Regions from separate parts of the Homo sapiens genome. Here regions 1, 2, 3 and 5 are each linked to region 4. The links come from fine-mapping of genetic effects on gene expression. A gene starts in region 4. Each other region holds a variant in brackets. All regions are shown on one strand. Distances are between the middles of the regions.

Region 1 (4,114 bases), 560 kb after region 4:
GCAATAAAACAAAGCACCATCCGGTTCCTAAAACATCAATCTCCTCATCTCTTTGGGTCCTAGACCTGTTGGAGCTGAAGGATTTTTAGGAAGGAGGGCAGCGCTCAGCCCATTCTTAAAGCCATGGAGGGTCCCCCACGCCCACCTCACGCTGCCCCGAGCCCTTTTGCCTTCTCAAACTCAACAGAAGTCACTGGAGTGTCTACAGTACCTTTTCTCCCTTGGCTGAGAGCTACTCATAGAAATGCAAATCTGCTTTAATTAAGGTGGCTAATAAACAGCAATTATGTTTGCAGCAATTTTTGTTTTGTTCCTGCATAATTCTGTGTGTTCTCCAGATGCGTTGCTCCCGGCTGTCTTTCCTCTGGTATCTGCCATCTAAGTCCCAACTGTGACCCCAGGGATTGGAAAGGGAGCATGACAGTTTCCGTCCCTACTCCCATCCTTCAACCACCCAGCCCAGCCAGGAAGCCAGCAGAGCCCAGGCTAAGCTAGCTGCTCCTTCTTTTGTCTTTCACGGCCAGGCAGGCGTCACAGGGGAAAGACTTGGGTTAGGTAACAGGCGGAACTGGACAGGAGGCGCTGGGGAACAGGCTCCCCTCCACCAGGTGAACTCTCTTGGCTGTGCAATGTGGTGAATGAGACAGGCGCTCTCAGAACCTGACACCCATAAACATGTGCCACACTCTGTGATATGATAATATTGGGGTCAGTTTGGGAGCCATGGCCTCACTTGGGCAGTCTGGGTATGGACGTGGAGGCAGACAAGATGATGAACTGCAGGACCTCCTGAGACACAGGTGGGAGGAGGGCTGTGAACACGGCCAGCGCATGCATTCCCCCTGTCCGGGGTGATTCCCGCCCTAAGGAGAGGGACAGCAACCATTTCTTCCCGTTGGCCCGTCTGGCCGAGCAGCTCCCATTTGTTAGGCAAGGGCGCCCTCTACTGGATATCTGAGGAATGGCTCGCAGGGGTGCCGCTGGCTGAGGCGGGGGAGTCTTCCTTCATCTAGACACCTCCCCACCCCCTCTGCAGGCTTACCACCTCCTCCCTAAAGCTTTCCCCGTCCGCCAGATAGAATTATTCTCTCTCCTCTGAAGTCGGTTAGCACTTTATCTGCACCGCTCCTGTGGTACTAACACTCACCACCTTTTATTACAGTTATTTGTATCTTCTGGGGGTTCTGACTTAGAAGCATTCGCTCATGATCCCTTGAGAGGTTTATGACTGAATGCCTAATTTATCTCTGAGTCCTCTACCTTGCACTTTACCTTGCACATACAGGCCTTCGGCAAATGTTTGCTGAATGCTTGGATTAATGAATACACTTCTGAACCCACCCAAGAGGGCGCCAGCAGGGACGTGCCCTTCCCGGGTGCCTAATGGGACGCTGTTTCTCAACAGGACCCCCCATCATCTCCAGCACCCAGACCCAGCACGCCCTCCACGGCGAGAAGGGCCAGATCAAGTGCTTCATCCGGAGCACGCCGCCGCCGGACCGCATCGTGAGTGCTCCAGGGACGGCGGGCGGGGGCCGGGCCAGCAGCCCAACAGTCACTTTTGCCAATACCTGGGTGGCCAGCCAGGCGGTGCACACCTCCGAGGTTCCTCTTTCTTGCTGAGGAAAATTATACCTGCCTTGGCTGTCTTGGAAAAGCATCGTGAAGACACAATTGCAGGCCTTTCTCAGAA[C/T]AGGCAGTGCTCTCCCAGGGTTCAGCTGCCATTCTGCTGAGCTCTGACATGAACGGCTCTGACCAAATTCCGCATCCTAAGGGCAGAGGGGCACACGAGGGTAGTGGAGAGAAAAGACAAGTGACTTCTTCTCTTCCTGGGCTCCAGGCCAGTCTTTAGCAAAATCTTAGAGCGCAGGTAATAGTTGGCAACCCCTTTCTGTGCCTCCTGGAGCCCTCCTTGCCAGGTCTCTGTGGCCTTTACTGTCCATGGTAGCCTGCCCTGTTGCCTATCAATCGTCCCCTCTAAAGTGACCATTCCATTCTCTCTCCCTTCCTCAAAGAACTTATCCCTGCAATGCAGCTAAGGCAACTGAGGAGTCCACCCTCAGCGCCTCCTACCAGCTATCTGCTTGGTTTTTTTGTTTGTGTGTTTTTTGGGTTTGTTTGTTTGTGTTTGTTTTTTGAGATGGAGTCTCGCTCTATCACCCAGGCTGGAGTGCAGTGACACAATCTCGGCTCACTGCAACCTCCACCTCCCAGTTCAAGCAATTCTCATGCCTCAGCGCCTCTTGAGTAGCTGGGATTACAGGCATCTGCCACCACACCTCGCTAATTTTTGTATTTTCAGTAGAGATGGGGTCTCACCATGTTGGTCAGGCTGGTCTCAAACTCCTGGGCTCAATCGATCCTCCTACCCCAGCCTCCCAAAGTGCTGGGATTACAGGCGTGAGCCACCATGCCCAGCCAGTATCTGCATTTTTTTAAAGGGAGGGTCTTACTGAGCAGGAGCCTCATGTCTGTAATCCCAGCACTTTGGAAGGCTGAGGTGGGAAGATCGACTGAGCCCAGGAGTTTGAGACCAGCCTGGGCAACATAGTGAGACCCTGTCTCTACAACAACAACAAAAAAATTAAGGTGAGGGCAGAGTCTTTTTTTCCCTCTTTCTTTTTTGAGACAGAGTCTCTCTCTATCACCCAGGCTGGGTGCAATGGTGCAATCTTGGCTCACTGCAACCTCCACTTCCTGGGTTCAAGCAATTCTCCTGCCTCAACCTTCCAAGTAACTGGGATTACAGGCACCTGCCACCACACCCAGCTAATTTTTTTGTATTTTTAGTAGATAAGGTTTCACCATGTTGGCCAAGCTGGTCTCAAACTCCTGACCTCAGGTGATCCAGGGGCAGAGTCTTGTACTCAAATCCATCTAAAACTGGAGGGATCTCAGGCATGAAAACAAAGAAAAGTGAGCATTTTATAGCACTACTCGGGGAAAACTTATTTGTAGTAATTCCCAGTGTATGGCAAAATCCTGCTAGAAGACTGTCCAGGGGTGGAGTGGGCAGGGCAGTTGTGCAGGGAGGGTGGGGCTGGCCCAGATGTGAAGCAGCTGAGGTCACCCCTAACCCGTGCATGCGGGGGCTGAGACACCCAGGCTGCACCAACTGAAACTGTCATCCTGTTAACTAAGATATTATTAGAGTATTATTGCTGCTACACGCTTTCTCAAGCATTCAGTTCATTCACTGTCTGAAAGATTCACAAAAAAATTGCAAGAACTCATGAATAAAACTAATACCTACGCCTCCCCATTCACTTTGCTTTTTGATGTTTTTAATTATAAATGTAACACATGCTCATTGTCAAATATTCCATTCACTCTTGGACATTTTCACACCTTCTCTCCAGAAATATCTGATTCTAGGCCAGCGGTTCTCACTGGCCCCAGGGGACATTTGGCAGTGCCTGGAGACATTTTGGTTGTCATCACTTGGAGGATACTCCTGGCACCGGGTGTGTAGAGGCCAGGGTGCTGCTGACATCCTGCAATGCCTGGGAGAGCCCCACGGCCAGGAATGGGTCAGTCCAGCGTGACAATAGCAGCAAGCTTGAGAAACTCAGTCCCTCTCATCAGCCCCGAACCAGGATATACGAGGCGCTTACACGATGAGGTGCAGACAGTGTATGTGGCCGGCTCTGAAAACTGTTAACCAGCAGCCCTGTAAACTAAGGCAGACGAAGGTGATCGCAAACACAGCTCTGTAGACACATTTCTCACACAGACATACAACATCACACAGGTAGACGCGTTCATGGGGCTGCTGTCCTAACTCACACCCACCCAGGCAGCCACAGTCCCGGGGGGCATTTGTGTGGAGGCGCAGTGCGCAGGCCAACAGGGCACCCACTTTGCCCAGAAAGATGCTCCCCAGGCCCCTTTCTGGGATGGAAAGACCCTCTGAGGATGCCCCAGAGTATGTGTGTGTACATGTGTTTGTGGATTGTGTACATGTGTGGTGTGGGTGTGTTACCGTGTACATGTGTCATGGCATGTGTGAACATGTGTATCTGTTGGTAGTGTGTGTACTTGTGTGTGTGAGCACATGGTGTGTGTGTATGTCATAGTGTGTGTACCTGTAAGTACACATGATGGTGTGTATGGC
Region 2 (4,114 bases), 690 kb after region 4:
ACCCCTGCCACCATCCCACCCCATCACTCCTGACATAACAGCCTCATTTCTGTTCTTCTTTCCATCCCCAGAACACGTGCTATTCCTCAGCCCAGAGTGTTCTCCCCTCTTTGCACAGCTGGCTTCTTCCCATCTTTCAGGCCTCAGCCTGGGTGTCAGCTCCACTGCAGAGAGCCCTCCTAGAGCCCTGGTCTGAGTAGGCTCTCTCCTGCTCATGGCCACTCAGACATCTGCTTCCTTGTTTGCTGTCTGCCTTCCCCACTAGAACTGCAAAGACAGGGAGACATCGGTTATCTTCACCAACACAGACCTTGCTTCTACTAGAGTAGCTGGCACATAGCAGACACTTCACATTTGTTAAATGAATAAAGAAATGTCCCAGGTCCTCATGGTTAGCAAATGGCAAAGCCAGGATTCGCACCCAGGTCTGCCTGACGTGAGGCTTGTTCTCAGCACTGGCACTGTGCTAAAACTCAGAAACAGCATGTTGCTGCCCCAGTGCATGCCATGAGAAAGCATGAGTGCCCCAGCATGACTAACTCCTAAAGCCCATGCTCTCTCCATTATGTCGTTGGGATGGACATTGCAGCTGGAAGGATGAGTGGCTCACACGAGCAGCCTCTTGCAGTCAGCTGAGAACGTGGAGGGGATAAACGAATGAGGAGACTGCAAAACCTCCAGACTTGAAGAGGAAAAGAAAGTTGCCAGTGACCAGAGGAATACCAGAAAAAAATCAGCTGAGCCCATGATTTCTACTGTGGCCAGCTCAGAAATGAGGGGTGGGGGCTCCCCTAGGCAAACAGTATTCTAGGAAGGAGGTCTAAAGAAGCAGCCAGAGACAGCAGAAAAACTCAAAGGCACAACCATGCAGGGGGACAGAGGGCTGAGGCTGCAGGAACTGCACATTCAGGGCCCTCGGGGTGGGCAGCATTGAGTTGACTCCAAGGCTGGGACTGGAGAGGGAGGTCCCAGGCTCTGACTTAGCTGGCCTTCCCACAGAGGGGACAGCTGGAGTGGGCCACAGGACTATTTTGGCAATGCTGCCACCTTGTGGCTGTGGAATGCCCAGCCCACAGGAAAACAAATCTACACATAGGTCAGTTTGTGGGTTCATTCTTCACTTATTGAAAGCACCTAATATGGGCGACATGGCTCCAACCTTCGAGGACCTCACCCCTTATATCCAGGCAGTGACCAAACTCTCCTCTTTTCACCACTATGTCCCCACCCCTGACCCCAAACAAGACTGTGAGGGCAAGGATGGTATCTTACTCATCTCTGAAGCTACGGTACGCGGCATAGGGCCTGGCACATGAGACTAATAACAGCAGCTACTACTTAGTATTGTGCTCAGTGCTTTTAAGTACATTAGCGCATCGGATTCTTGAATTGCACCTATGAGACCTCCAAATGGAGATGTCAAGGAGGGCTTTATTTCAATATGAGCCCGGAGTTCTTGGAGAGGTCAAGGATGGAGAAATAAAGGTGGGCGTCGCCGGCATACAGATGGTGTTTTTTTAAAGACCAGTGCCTCTCAAAGTTTTACGTGCATATGGCTCACCAGGGAGTTGTGCTAAAATGCAGACTCCAGTGATTCTGTAGTCTGAAATGGGGAGGAGATTCTGTTTTACCAGACTCCCAGGTGGTGCGAATACTGCTGGTTCACAAACCACACTTTGAGTGGTAAAAATCTGGAACAGAGGTTAACAAACTATGGCCAGCTGGACCTCTATTTGTACAATCAGCAAACCAAGAGTGATATTTTCATTTTCACAGGGGTTGAGAAAAAGAAGAAGGAAGGAGAAGGCAGAAAAGGCAGAAGAAGAAGGGGTTGGG[A/G]AGGAAGATGGGAGGAAAAGAAGAAGAGGAGACAGAGACCATTTGTGCCTCACAAGGCCTAAAATATTGACTCTTTGGTTTTTGACAGAAAAAGTTTGACAATCCTGACCTCAAATATCACCCAGGGAAAAGCTATGCAGCTAAACAAGGGAGCAACCGGGCCCTGAAGCAAACCGCTGCGACTTCCAAATCCCCATCCCTAGTTTTGGTAGGAAAAGCAGGAGCGAAAGGCACCGCATGTACAGTCGGCCCTCCGTATTGTGGGTTCCATATCTGTGGATTCAACCAAATGAAGAATAAAAATACTTAAAAAAAGAAGGACATTGCGTCTGTATTGAATACGTACAGACTTTTCTTGTCATTATTACCTAAAAAACATGGTATAATAACTATTTACATAGCATTTACATTGTAGCAGGCAGGAGATGTGCTTAGGGTACATGCAAATACTACACCATTTTATATCAGGGACTTGAGCATCCACAGATTTTAGTATCCAAGGAGAGTCCTGGAACCAATCCCCAGTGGATACTGAGGGATGACTTATATACCAAGAAGGCAGGAAGGCCAGGGGCAGCGGCTCATGCCTGTAACTGTAATCCCAGCACTTTGGATCACCTGAGATCAGGAGTTCGAGACCAGCCTGGCCAACATGGTGAAACCCCATCTCTATTAAAAATACAAAAATTAGCTGGGCGTGGTGGTGTGTGCCTGTAAATCCCAGCTACTCGGGAGGCTGAGGCAGGAAAACCACTTGAACCTGGGAGGCGGAGGTTGCAGTGAGCCAAGAACGTGCCATTGCACTCCAGTCTGGGTGACAAGAGCAAAACTCCATCTCAAAAAAAAAAAAAAAAAGGGGCAGGAAAAGAAAAGATGAACTAACATCTGAGGCTCCCAGGTGGGTGGGGGTGGCCCTGGAGACACCTGGGGTTCTGAGTGGGAACAAGGACTTGTGGTGGGCCAATAACCCACTGCCTCTTTCAGTGCTTATCTTGGGAAAAACAATAGAAACAGAAAGGGCGAGCAGGGACTACCTCCACTTGTGTGCAATGCCACAGAAGGACTGGGAAAATAAAAAGGACAGCCTGTGAATTCCACAGGGTTCATCTGTCGGGCAGAACCTTCTGAATTTTGGCCAAGGGTGGGGAGGGTGGGTAGAGGGATTTCGGAAGGTGAGGGAAAGGGTGTGGCAGTAAAATAATAGCCCCTAGAGCCTGCAATGCAGGGGGCCACCCCAAGTTGTGTTTGGCCACGGTGCCTTCTGTCATTCTTCTGCCGCCCTGTGCTGAGGAATACATTTGCTTAAACGTCACTGCCTGAGAAAGGAAATACAGCTGTCCATTTCCATCAACTTGCACCAATTAATCTGGCTTTTGCTCAATGGAAGACAAGGCTGTTTTGCATTAAGTCATGAAAGGTTTGCTTGTCTCACCATGAAGTGTTCACATATTTCCAAAGGACAACAATAGCACCCTTTCATGGAGGGCAGAAAAGAATATCTATCAAAAGACTGTGGGGCAAGATATCTGCAAAGCCAGACCGCTCTTAAATGCTGGAGGGCAAACAAGAAGACAGAAGGATATGACAAAGTCACCATGTGCTGTAAAACAAATTCCAGAATTTGCTGGTTGGAAGGAATCTTTAAGGTCAACCAGTCTCACTCATGTTTCCAACAAAGCTGCCTACAAAATCTAACCATCTTGAGAAAAAATGCACATGTCACACCTGGCTTTTGGCATGGAATATTCTTTTTAATAAATTAAGAAATGCTTGCAATGAAAAACAAATCTCTGCCTTTTAACCCACGAGTTCTTGCCCTTCTCTCCCATCCCCCTTGATCTCACTAGTTGTCTCTCCCACCAGAAAGTAGGTTCCTTCAGGGAAGTGACTGATTTTTGCAGCACCAGACACACTGGCCGGCCCACAGAATGAGTATGGTGAGCAAGACCCCAGTCTACTGAAAAACCTTAGCTTTCCCGCCACCTACTGGCTGTGTGATTTTGGACAAGTTATTTAACCTTTCAAAAACCGGTTTCCTCATTCGTAAAGTCCTCCTTACAAGAGGGCTGTTTTGAGGATTAACTGTGTTAATACATGTAGATACAATAGTAAGGATTTCCTAAGTGTTGTTGACAATTTTTATCATTCAATTAGTAGATTAATCTATTATTCTGGCTGGGCACGGTGGCTCACACCTGTAATCCCAGCACTTTGGGAGGCCAAGACGGGTGGATCACGAGGTCAGGAGTTCAAGACCAGCCTGGCCATGATGGAAACC
Region 3 (4,114 bases), 530 kb after region 4:
ACACTGCCGGATGGGGCCTTGGGCAGTGCCCACTGCAGGCTCCCAGCGGGTGTCGGCTGCAGAGGCACAGAGCAGGAAAAGGCCCCTCCAAGCTTCTTCCTGGAGACTCAACCCTGGGCTGTCTGGGGACAGTGGGTTCCTTCCCTGTTCCTCATACTTCTGAGGGCCTGGCGCCAGAGTGGAGACCACATTCTTTCTTCTGGAAAGCCCCCAAGTCCACACAGCAGGGGAGGAAGGATGGGTTACGGAAGAGGAGGGGCGAGAGGACAGGCTGAGCCCAGAAAGAACCCTTCCTAAGTGCAGCTTCCTGCCAGGCAGGAGGGTTGCAAGGTCTTAGCACGCACAGTCGTGTCTGTGTCTGCTTGGAGCCCCTTGCCCTCTACCCCTACCACCAGGACCACTGGCCTCGCCTTTTACCACCTTTGCTAAGAGGAGCTCTGGAGACCCCACTCAGGAAAGGGATAAGTGCCCACATGCATAGGGCCCTCACCCTCCACTGGGCACCCCCTCCCTGGTCACTCACCCATCACCCTGCACCTATCTGCCCAGCTTAGGGGCCTAGAGTCTCCACTGGGTGTGGCCGAGGCTCATCCTGGCCTTCTCTGTGAAGGGCACCCCTCTGGCCTCTGGCCTCAAGGCTGGATGCAGGGACTGGGGCAAAAAGCACTGCGCATCCTCCACCTGGCCCACACACCCTTATTCAAGCCAGGTGGCAACCAGCCCATGGGGAGCCCCAAGCAGCTATCAAAAGGGGAAGCAGAGCCATGATTTTTTAAAAAAAAAAAAAAAGGGACCCAGCAGGTGGGGAAGGTGAGTAGCGGGGAGAAGCGAGGCGGCCTTGCTGCCAGGCAATCAGGCTACTCTCGGCCTTTCCAGACGGTTTGCCTGTCATCGGGCACCCCATATTTAGCACCAGTGCTTGGGCCCCCACCCCTTGTCTGCCCTCCAGCCCACCCATTTCCGAGAGCTCAGCCTGGCTCTCCACTGCCCAGAGGAGGCCCTGGGGGCTTTGGAAAGAGCAGAGTGGCCAGCCACTGCCACCCAAGCAGGAAAACCATGGGGTGGGGTACACTGTGTACAACCATACCTGGGAAGACCGGCCTCCCAGGCCGGTGCTGGGGAACTAGAGAAGTGAGTGCCAAATCCCTGCCCTTAGGGAGGGGCAGTGGGGGTGGGTGCACAGCCCTGAGGCGGCACCTGAGCAGGCAGCGTCCAGAGAGAACCTGGGGCCCCGCAGAGTCACGGCAGTCAGTGGACAGAGGCCCATGAACACCCAAAGACAAAAACAGGTACGCGCACATACCCACGGGGGTGTATGCCCTGGCACGCTCGTTCCCGGACACATGCTGCACACACGCCATCTATATGCCTGCCCCTGGCCCATATCTGCACACACAGGAGCTGGGTCCTCGGGGACTCTTGGGAGCCACCATGGCAGTCACATGGGCAACCTGGGCGAGCCGGGGGCTGGCAGCACGTTAGTGCTCACCACACTGGAGGGAGGCCTTGGAGGCGGTGGCTCCCACAGTGAGTGGCCCACCATGAATAACTCACTTCCTTCTGGAGCTCACCTGCAAGGCATGAAGCTTTCTGAAGCAGGAGGTGGGAGGTTCAATGCCCATGGTGTGTCCCCAGAGCCAAGCTCAGTGAAGGGAAGCAGGGAAGGGAGGGGCGGAGTGGAGCTGCGACTAGAACCTGCAGATGATAGAATGTTCTCCTGGACAGTACCTTCAAGGCTGCAAAGTCCAGAGGCTCCATTTGCATATGAGAAAAGTGACAATTAGGGGAGATTCATTTCTGAAAAGGAGTGAAGCAAAAGAAACAAGAGAGGCGAGATCAGAAAGGAATGGGGGAAGAGAAACCCGGGGGTGCAGATCCCCCGTGCCCCTCCACATCCCGCCCTGTCCTGCAGGTGCAGGGCTCCCTCCAGCCTTCCCCCTGGGCCCCCCAGCTCTGTCCCACCTTCCTCCCCTCAGTCGTCCTGCAGCAGAGCTGGCAGACCCAGCCTTCCTCCCTGGGATACCCGCTGCACGGGGCCTGGGGTCCCCCGCGAGCTAGGGGCCCAGGAGGTGCTGGGACCTTCCACGGGGACAGAGAGGGTGTTGGTGCTGGGGCACGTGCCTTCCCCTCACCCTCCTTTTGTTTAATGAACACATCTCCCTTTTTCTCTAATTAGGTGGAACAAACAACTTGAACCAGAATTTTTATTTCCCAGAAAAGCACACGCCTGGACCCAGTAAATATGTCATTAATCATCATTCCGAGGCGGAGGAGCACGCTGGGTGCAGGGAGGAGGGGGAGCAGTCAGAGGGCCTAATTAGAGCTGGGTCCCCTCCCTCCCCTGCCACTGGCACCCACCGCCCAGAGCCCATCCGTTGGAAGGGCTCCTGGCAGAGTCAAGCTTATGTAAATGTCCCTTGTTAGCACAACGGAAATGTAAAGAAGAGAAGAAGAATACCAACCTGCTCCTCACCACCTCCCCGCCCCTGCGCGCCCTACCC[G/C]AAGTCTTAGTTTCATCCAGGAAATTGTTCTTATTATCACTTGGCTATTTATAGACTCGATGAGGTCTGCTGAAGAGCCCAAGGCAGGGTGGTAAAGCGGTGCCAGCTGCTGCTCCCTCCCTGCCCGGGCTTTGGCTTGGGGTTCAACTTCACTCCTCTGCAGTGGTCCTGCCCCCGGCTTGCTGCATCTGGCCACGTCACTCTCCTCCAGCCCCTCTGCCCAGGGCCGTGGCTGGCACCCTGAGTCCCAGGCCTGCAGCTGCACCGCGTGGCTCTCTAGAATGTCACAGTCCGGCTTTGCCTCCAGCAAGATGTGCTGTTCTATATAGAGGCTCTGGCCCTGTTCTCCTGACGCCACGAGGTTTGCCCCAAGTTGAGAAAAACCTCACTGAATTAAGGACCCAGAATGTGGGGTTCTAGGAGCTTACAGGTTTCTCCCTGTGGCCCTAACTGTTCCCATCTGTCCTGCCAAGAGCACGGTACCCACCGTCCAGCACCCCCGGGGCTGCAGCAGAGGCTGTGGCTCAGGGTTCACCCATTCTTAAGTGCAAATCCTAGCTCCACCCAGCAAGTTCCCGGCTCACTTGGAACACAGGTTTCTCTTTGGCTAATCAAAGATAATGCTGCTGTCTTCCGGGGCCCTCATAAGAATTAGAGACATTGCCATTGTCACTTTATGGGAGGTTTTGAGGGAGGAGTGGTCTGTTCATCTACTCCCTGGCTCCAGTCGGGGGAAACAGGACTGCACCCATAGTGAGGTTCCTTCCTAGTACCTCCTAGTAGCAGAAGCCTTTGCATACTGACCAGACCCCAATCCCAACCTGGAAGTGCACCCCCACACACACTCAGCACACCCTCCCCGGGGTGCACCTGACTTAGTGCGCCCCAAAGTGATGGGGAAGTAGCTGCAAAGAGGAACAGGAGAGGGAAGGAGGTAGCAGCCACAATGGGGAACTAGCTTCGGAATGACATTGTGGCCCAGTAGAGAAAAGCAATGACCTGGGAAGGTGGGAGACCAGCAGTTAAGATGGGTTTGCTTCCTAGGGCTGCCATTACAAAGCACCACAATTCGGTGCATGACACAACAGAAATCAATTATCTCACAGCTGTAGAAGCCAACAAGTCTGGAATCAAGGTGTCAGCAGGGCTGTGCCCCTCCAAAGGCTCCAGGGGAAAATCCTTCCTTGCCTCTTCCAGCTCCTGGCAGCTCCTGGCATTCCTTGGCTTGTGGCAGCATCCCTCCAATCTCTGCCTCCACCTTCACCTGGCCTTCTCTGTTTCTCTCTGTCTTCTCCTCATCCTCCTCTTCTCCTCCTCCTCCTCTTCTCTTTCACTTTCTCTTTATCCTTCTCCTTCTTCTTTTTCTTTTTCTTTTTCTTCTTCTTCTGAGGCAGGGTCTCACTCTGTGGCCCTGGCTGGAGTACAGTGGCACAACCTCAGCTCACTGCAGCCTCAACCTTCCGGGATCAAGTGATCCTCTCACCTTAGCCTCCCAAGTAGCTGGGACTACAGGCACAAGCCACCATGCCTGGCTAATTTTTTTTTAATTTTTTTCTTTTTTTTTTTTTTTTTGGTAGTGACAGGATCTTCCTATGTTGCCCAGGCTGGTCACC
Region 4 (4,114 bases):
TCTTACTGTGTTATTTGGCATATGTTATTTAAAATTATTTTTCATCTCCTCTGTGTGTTTTTGATTTGCCTCTTCCATTTATTGCATGATCTGTTACACCAGGCTAATGGACTCAGGCTCAGCTGACACTGCTTCAGTAACTTGTTTGTTAATTTAGCTAATGGGCTGCCTCTTTTGTGTCCTTTTAGTTTCTGTTGCTCAACATTTCTGTTTCTCCTCCCAAAGTTTGCTTACAAATTTCCCTTTGCTGTGTTTAACAGCCTCTAAGGGATGCAGTTAAATAAACTATTAAGTTAAGAATAGAAAAGTCAACAAAGCAGACACCTACTAATTTGTAGATCTTTGGTGTCAACTACCAGATGTCAGCTCCTACTAGCACACTTCTATATGCCCCTGCTTCTTTCTTTCTTGTTCACAAATACCAAGGGATAATTTTTTAAAGTTAACATCCGCATGGAAACTTGGAGTTGGAATGTGCCTTGTAGTGAGCAGAGTCCTCAAAAGATGTGCTACTACTGAAAGAGGAAAGGCTAAGAGTTTCCCAAAAGACCTCCCCAAGGTCCAGGGACTGAAGACAGTAATGACTGATTTTAGAATTGAATGCTAAATGGCACATGTCAGGGGAGCGTCTTTCATTTTCCTCTCCTCTCTCTTTACCTCTCCTTCTCACAGTGCATAACGTTGAATATTTTTCTGTGTTGTTTTGTTATGTCCTTAGAGTTTGCATCTTGTGTGTGTACTCTGCTTGCACACTAGATTATGAGCTTCTGAAGGCATGGTCTGTGCCTATTATTTTGCTTCCCTCCATGGCCTGCTTATACCAAGCATGCCTAAATGTCTATTAAGTAAATAGACCCAGATAAATTCATGTTGATATCCTGGAGGAAACCGAGTTTGATTTGAGTGTGGAGTGTGAATTTCATGACAGGTAAAAGGCTTGAAGATCCTTAGGACGCAGTTGTCTATGACCTTGGCCTCTCCTTTGCAATTGGACTCACAGCACCTCTTGGAGAAAAGACAGGCTCAGAGTGATGGAGCGCTCATTAGAGGAGAGGCTCTGAATGCAAAGACAGGCTGCTCCCCTGTCCTCGTTAGGAAATGCACAAACCAGGATAATGATAATAAATGGGTGTGTGTCACAAGCCTACTTGCCTTCCCTTTAGTTCCTGCATTTTGTCTTCCAGGAGCAGTGCAAAGCAAACTAAGATCCAAATGTTCAGGTTTTATTACCTACCCCCCCCCCCCACCACAACCACCCACCCACCCACAGGAAACTCTCAGAAATGCAAAGCATGCTTATCTCTTCTCCAACTCCGAGCCTCCCGCTGCACACATTGGCCAAGTCCTTCCGAGGGAAAGATGCGCACCCCCCCTTCCTAGTTCCCTTTCAGCCCAGTTTCCAGTTCCTTTGCAAAGGCAGGGCGTGCATGTTTTTGTGCACATGCATGTGGATAGTCATCCTTAACTTCACTGTTAAACAGGACATCGTGTGGACAAAAAGTCACAGCTCCACTCCAAGCTCAAGATGCCTTTTGGTCAATAATGGTGACAAAAGCTGAATTTTTCCCTATTTAGGGAAAAGAAAGAACACAGCCTTTTCCCCCACTGTCCGTTTTGCATAGATCTCCTTTTTCCGAGTGTTTCCTCTTTAATTATGACCTGTCTCCCCTCCCTCTCCCCTCGCCTCAGCTTCAGTGAAAGGAGTCCTTCTGTCACTCGTCACTAGCTCGCTCGCTCACTGTGGGAGGAGCCCGCCTGAGGAAGCCGTGTGCCTGGGATGCCAAGAGCCAGAGAATGGATCTTCTCCGAGTGGGGACATTGCTGACAATCCCGGCTTCCCGAGGCGGCTAAGAACAGGCAGTTTGTGTCGGCTGGCTGCAGATACCCAGAGGCACAAAGAGACCGAAGCCACCCGGAGGGACCCACGGACGGACAGATGGTAGGCGCGAACCCGAGAGGACCGGCGGAGGCTGAGCACCGAGAGCCGCCAAGGAAGAGAAACTAACCACAGCCAAGTTACCCCGCCGGCTTTCCTTCGCTGCGCTAAGGAATGAAACCCTTCCAGCTCGATCTGCTCTTCGTCTGCTTCTTCCTCTTCAGTCAAGGTAGGACCCCTGCGCTGCTGGAGTTGGAAGAAAGTCGGCTGGGTTGTCAGGGCGCGGGAGGCTGTGGGCAGGAACGTGGGCAGGCTTCGGGAACTCGGACTGATGGATGCGTCTCTCGGTGCCGGGCTGAGATGCTCTGGCATTGCCTCTTCGCCTTTGCGAATGCAACAAAATGGTACTGTTTATTTTCCTTTGGAAAGAAGGGGTATGGGAGGGGAGGGGAATGACTTTCTCCTCTCACTTGTCAATATCCAGCTCAAACTCTCCAATGCAAATGAGTTCTTTATGCTTCTGGTATGTTAATTAGGTAGTATCTCTGTGGTTATGCCGCTCTGAACTTCTGGGCACCTCCTCTCCTTCAGACCCAGGCCAGGGAAGGAGACGGCAGGGAGGGAGAGCTTGGTTTAGGTGGATATTTCAGCTTGAATAGGGTTTGACTTGCACAAGTGTATTCAAAAGCGAATGTGTGTGGTTTGCACCGTTGAAAAGGGGGTTGCAATTACAGAATGTATTGTGGGGGGTAATTTGCAGTGGTTGGGAAAAGCTTGTAAAGAGTTTCATTGAACGTCATCGAGTTCCCTAAATTAGGTTGAATTCTGAATCCTACACAGCACTGAATTCAGGGTATAAAATGAAATTTCGCCCGTGGTGCTGATGGTTTCCTTTCTGCAGCCTAGCAGGGGCAGAGAAGCAGGTGGACTCTCCGGAAAGAACTTTGCCACCTCTAGGCTCCTTGCCACTGGGAGCCCTGGGGCTGGTAGTGGTGCAGAAAGGAGAGGGAAATTCGGGAGAGGGAATGTGAGTGCCTAGTTGGCCAAAGGCATCAAAAGTCACCTGTGGAATTGAGTTTGGAGGGGCAAGTACATGGGCTCCTTCCCGCTCTTTTGGAATGCCAATGCACCTCTGCCATCTGAGGCTGCATTTGTGCCAGCCAACACAGCTCTTAGAGGTGCAAGACTCAGAAAAAATCCACAACAGAGCACGTCCATCTGTTGATTAAATGAAGGGTAAAAGTTTTCGAGAAAGCAAAGCACTGCCATGGGTGGCTGGCTTTGCAAGCAAACAGCATGTCTTCTGTTTCTCCCCTGTCGGGGAGAAGCCAAATATAAGCAAAAACCTGGCTTCCTTCTTCTGCTCTTCCACCCGTGCTTGTGGTCACTGCAGACTTTCTCCTTATCTGTGCAGTTCAAACTTTGCTTCTGGTCCTCCTGATGAAACCGAAGGGGCTCCTTCTTCATATTTGTATGTGCATACTAATGCCTGTGTATAATGATAATGTATGTACACACACACACACACACACACTCATGTATTCATATGGTTGTGTGCTTCTCACCAAGGCTCCCTACAGCAGCAGGAAGATAAATTGCCTTCCCCAGAGTTTCAGGCTGAATGAATAAGAACTCTCTCAGAACACTGGTATAGAGACAGGTTCAGTTATATTACCATTTGGTAAGATTACCCTCTTTCTTGGATGTGTATGTGCTTGCTTATGAGCACACACACACACACACACACACACACACACACACACACACTCCCATTCGTCTTTGCTTCTTACCAGTTCACTCAGGAAGTTTTGATATAGAACCCCTGAGAAGGAGGGAATCTTCCAACCAACCCCCCGTAAACACACAAACTCACATTTGCATGGGACCAGTGCATGCTTTAATCAGCCTTTTGTGTAGTTAGAAGCTTGATCCGTGATACTTATGTAGATTGGCATAAGAAGGCTATAGGTGTCTAAGTACCTCCCTGGCCGTCTGAATCATTACAGTGTACATCTTCTGTTGTGCTTATTTCTTTCTTGGTCTGGAGCTGTTTCTTGACTGCTTCATGTGAATCTTTAAATATTTACCTATGGAGGTTAAATGCTCTGTTTTATCTACCCCGAGTCCTGAGAGCGCTAGGAAGAAACCATAACATCATGCAGTTCTTAATGCCTTGTGCTCCTGGAGTGTTCTGAGCTTGGCCATCACTGTCCACCCTACCAAATGGTAGATACCTGG
Region 5 (4,110 bases), 640 kb after region 4:
GAGGATCCCAGCGTGAGGGAAACACGGAGCGGGAGCTAAACCACCAGCAGGGGCCTGTTGCAGGGAAACGTCCAGCCGGCCCAGTGCGACTGAACTGAGGGGGCAGGAAGCAGGGGCTGTTTGCTCGGGGTGTCCCACCCTGCACTGCTGGACTGCCCCGCTCTCCAGCATCTAAGGTCCATCTCCGAGGGGCCAGGAGCTGGGCTAGGCTCTAGCGGCTGCCTTGATGGCAATCTGTAGGCTTGGACTTCAGACCCCACTTGGGGCCCAAGCTCCCTCTCCATCCCCTGCAGGCCCCCCAGCCAGCTCCTTTCCCTATCGGCCCAGGGTCTGGAACTTGGCAGGCACGGAAACATTTGTATTAGTCCAAGATAGAGGGATCCCTTCCCTCCAACAGATGGTGCAAACCTTTGAGCCATTCTGAGAAGAATTCCCAATTCCATTGGGACAACCCCAGGAGCAGCCTCTCTGAGGAGAGACCCAGAGAACGTGCCCAAGTCAGACCTGGGGTAGCCCCCAAAGCAAGGGCAGATGGTGGCCAGTGGGGAGTTAGGACAGAATGACAGCTCAAGATGGAGCACAGAAAGGGGGTTTGGTCTCTCTGCTCCTGCTGGGGAAGGGAGCCCTTTCCAGGATTAAAAGTCCAGAAAGGAGCAGATTCTTAGTTCTATCCAGAAAACCGGATTCTAGGAGTCTAACGAGGTTGGGAGGCTGGCGGGGGCACGGCACTCTCTTCCTGAGAAGCAGAGGGCCAGTCACTGCTTCCCGTAGGGAAGGCAGCCCAGAGGCACCTCAGCCTGGGCCGCCAGCTCACAGAGAAGGCGGCCCTGTTGTCTCTGAACAACAACCCATCCCCAAGCTAAAGACACCCACTCTGCCCAAAGTCCAAGCTGGCAATTTCCAATTCACTCTTCTAACTCTTCCTTCCATGTGCACCCTCACAACCTCGGTTACCATCTTGGAGTCTGGGGGATCTGGCCCCAACTCCTGGCAAGCTCCCCATGTCTTGACAGAGCCCAGGGCCCATGGGGCAGCTTAGGATCACCCACCCAGCGCAATGGGGCCAGGCACAGGAGCAGTCTGGGAGTGGGCCAGGAGCAGGGCAGGGAACGGTCAAGGGGCATTCCCAGACCAGCTCTCAGCAAGCAAAACAACCTCCCGAGTTCATTTCTAGGCCCCAAACAGCGGGCACGTCCCCGGAACCCACTCTAGAATTATCGGGCAGCTTTGGAGAGTAACAGCATGGGAGAAATATTACCAATAGTGAATATTTATACAGCTCTCCCTCCGTGCAGGCGCCTTTCAAAGCACTTAGCATATATCAACTCATTTAAAATCCCCCTGGCAGATGCCAGGGCCAGGACCTAGAGGAGGTGGAGTCTGTAGGACGGGTCCGGCACAGCTCAGGAGACAGTGACACGGGTGTGTGTCTCTTGTGAGAACTCAGCCTGTACCAGGCCTGTTCCCAAAGTTCAAAAAGAATGAGTCCGCCTGAGCCTGGCTTCCACGCGGTACCCGCCTCC[G/T]GCGGTGGAAAGTACAGGCTTCCCCAAGAGGCCTGTGGGGGGTGCCAGCTTGTGGGTGGCCATGAGGTCAGACAGGGCACAGCTGGGCACCCGAACACTGCCTACACTCCCAGCCTTCTGGCAGCAGTTCCCTTAAGCCAGGCCCTCAGGACCCAGGCTGGGGAGCAGAGGAAGCAGCCACAGTAGGTCAGGCCTCAAGCTGCCCAGACAGAGCCTCCCCCCAGGACTGGGAATGGAGGGGCAGTGCTGGCAGACATGTTGGCAGTTCTGGGCTGGCCGGGAGGTCCCTGCCAGCCAGGTCCCCGAGGAAACACCCACAGCAGACAGCTGAGCCCACTCCCCCCATCGCATCCCTCCCACTGCTCACCACCCATGCAGCCCTGAGGCACAGTGGCCTAGGCCTGACGACCCCCATAACGTGGCCCTAGGACCCTGGGCACAGCCGGCCTCCCACTGACAACTCCACCTTTGGGTCCTGCTCAGCGACCTTGCGACTCCTGCACACAGGCGGACCCCGCAAAGCCTGTCACCTCCAGCACAGTCAGCTCCCAAGTGCTGGACCTGACCGGGGTAGTTGTGGGAGAAACCATCGCTCGAGGATGCTGGAGGTGGGGGCCGCCGCTTCAGTCCGGGCGCAGGGCTGGGGGATTGGGGGCGGAAACTTTCCGCAGAACTGTCCCGCTTGCTCACTCCAAGGGAACGGAGAGGATCCGGCTTCCCGCGAAAATCTGGTCCAGGGAAAGGGACCCCGGAAAGCAGCTCCGCAGGGCTGTGGCAGCCCCACCCCGACCCGCGCTGCGCCCACGTGCAGGGCCCGACCCCCTCCGGGAGGCGCGGCGCCGGCTGGGGTCAGGCGGCCGAGGACCCCGCGGCTCCCCGCCCCGCCCCGCCCCGCGGGCCCCCGCGCACCGCCGCCGCGTACTCACCCTCACGGGTGGAGCGGGGCGGGGCAGCACGGTTCCGCGCGCAGCTCCGATCCGCTAGGCGCACCGACCGGCGGCGCAGCGCTGGCGCGACGGCTCGACTCGGCCGGGTCCCTGTCCCGGGCGCGGGTCCGGCCTGGGAGCGGGCGAGTCCGCCTGCAGGGGAGGCGGGGACCCGGGCCCGGGTTGGGGGCGGGGAAGGGGCTGGACACGCTTGCGCACACGGCGGCCCGACTCCCAGGAGCTCCCGGGAGGGGTAGAAAGGGCGGGGTGGAGGAGGGGGAAGGGCGGGGGTGATGCCGCGCGGTCGCAGGCTTGGGATGGTGTTCGCGCCTCCGAGACCCGGACAGAGGCAAGCAGGGGCGCCGTGGGTGCCAGAGAGGCGGAAGAGGAGGCCTGATGGGGTGAGCACAGGGCCAGGGCAGGCACTGCCTGTGAATGGCGCCAGGGTGGGTATGCCCAGCGCAGCCAAGGCGCTCGCTCCCGGGAACAATGAGAATCAAGAAAGGGTGCAGTGCTCTATCCCACGGGGAACGGTGTCCTTCCCTCACTGGGGAAACTGGGGCAGGGTCCTGTTCCGGGAGCCTATGCTTCCCGTGCCCCATGCACGCAAGGCAGCCAGTCAGTCCCCTGGGCCCAGACGTGGGCCCTTCCTCTGCTTCGGTTGGGGCCTGCTGCCCCTAAACTGCTCTCTCTGCACCCCTCACTTGCATACTCTTTATCTTGGCCTCAGAAAGTTTCTCAGTTTCCTTTCCGTTATTGAAGGCGCCAGGCATCCTGTCTCCAGGAAGAAACCCCTGGGCCCCTGACCCTGGTTCTTTGGACCCAGGCATCCCCCCAAATAAACCTGGGAACTGCCCAGGCTGAAGAACAGTTCAGAAGTCACCCTACAGGACAATCCACAGCCCCTTAGGCCAGTCCCTTTCACAGGTCAGCACAGTGTTTCCGGAGCCCCACGTATCAACAGCCCAGTGCCGGGAGCGCCAGGGGCTCCAAGGAAACTATCAGACCCATTCCCTGTCCCCAGGAAGCTTACCATCCAGCGGCACAGAGAAGGCTCACCATGGACTCCATTCAAGAACGAGGCAGGATAGGATGTGAATAAGTGCAAGGTGTGAGTGACTGACAGTAAGTGCAAGGGGGTTCAGAGAAGTGGCAGCTCCAAGCCTGCTTCTGCTGAAGCTGGAGGGCTTATCTGTCAAGAACCCCCAACTCAGGAAGCTCTGCTCCAAGTGAGCTGAGTAAGGAGAGTCTGCCTCCAAGTTGTTCCTCTGCAGGTGACTGTGCTCCATGCTAAATCATTCCTTGCACGGGCAGAAGCTGTTTGGCATTGCACCAGTGTCTGATTTTGTTTGAATATGGTGCCTTTGGCTTAATCAGTCAGACATGCATTCAACAACTATTTATTTATTTATTTATTTATTTATTTATTTATTATTTTGAGACAGAGTCTCGCTCTGTCGCCAGGCTGGAGTGCACTGGCGTGATCTTGGCTCACTGCAACCTCTGCCTCCCGGGTTCAAGTGATTCTCCTGCCTCAGCCTCCCGAGTAGCTGGGACTACAGGCGCGTGCCACCATGCCCAGCTAATTTTTGTATTTTTAGTAGAGACGAGGTTTCACCATGCTGGCCAGGATGGTCTCGATCTCTTGACCTTATGATCCG

Evidence for each region.
Region 1: its variant is fine-mapped to the expression of KIRREL3 in whole blood (TOPMed, PIP above 0.99).
Region 2: its variant is fine-mapped to the expression of KIRREL3 in whole blood (TOPMed, PIP 0.98).
Region 3: its variant is fine-mapped to the expression of KIRREL3 in whole blood (TOPMed, PIP above 0.99).
Region 5: its variant is fine-mapped to the expression of KIRREL3 in whole blood (TOPMed, PIP above 0.99). The same link has a PIP of 0.9 or more in blood mononuclear cells.

What each region holds. Positions count from the first base shown.
Region 1 is chr11:126,437,841-126,441,954 of GRCh38, reverse strand. It overlaps KIRREL3 (kirre like nephrin family adhesion molecule 3), which reads left to right. Exons shown (of 17, transcript NM_032531.4): 11 at 1,406-1,506. Among named protein-coding and RNA genes, the nearest start is that of ST3GAL4, 84 kb to the right of the region's middle. The variant C/T (reference allele first, on the strand shown) is at 1,694.
Region 2 is chr11:126,307,602-126,311,715 of GRCh38, reverse strand. All of the region lies in intron 2 of DCPS (decapping enzyme, scavenger), which reads right to left. Among named protein-coding and RNA genes, the nearest start is that of TIRAP-AS1, 5.3 kb to the right of the region's middle. RefSeq lists an enhancer at 229-298. The variant A/G (reference allele first, on the strand shown) is at 1,837.
Region 3 is chr11:126,464,305-126,468,418 of GRCh38, reverse strand. All of the region lies in intron 5 of KIRREL3 (kirre like nephrin family adhesion molecule 3), which reads left to right. Among named protein-coding and RNA genes, the nearest start is that of KIRREL3-AS1, 77 kb to the left of the region's middle. RefSeq lists enhancers at 1,028-1,575, 1,576-2,125, 2,673-2,732. The variant G/C (reference allele first, on the strand shown) is at 2,502.
Region 4 is chr11:126,998,446-127,002,559 of GRCh38, reverse strand. It overlaps KIRREL3 (kirre like nephrin family adhesion molecule 3), which reads left to right and starts at 1,790. Exons shown (of 17, transcript NM_032531.4): 1 at 1,790-2,105. The coding sequence starts at 2,051.
Region 5 is chr11:126,354,182-126,358,291 of GRCh38, reverse strand. ST3GAL4 (ST3 beta-galactoside alpha-2,3-sialyltransferase 4) reads right to left here and starts at 2,606. Exons shown (of 11, transcript NM_001254757.2): 1 at 2,450-2,606. It overlaps GSEC (G-quadruplex forming sequence containing lncRNA), which reads left to right and starts at 2,705. Exons shown (of 2, transcript NR_033839.1): 1 at 2,705-2,850. RefSeq lists enhancers at 1,648-1,797, 1,485-2,228, 2,229-2,970, 2,971-3,714 and a silencer at 2,388-2,767. The variant G/T (reference allele first, on the strand shown) is at 1,524.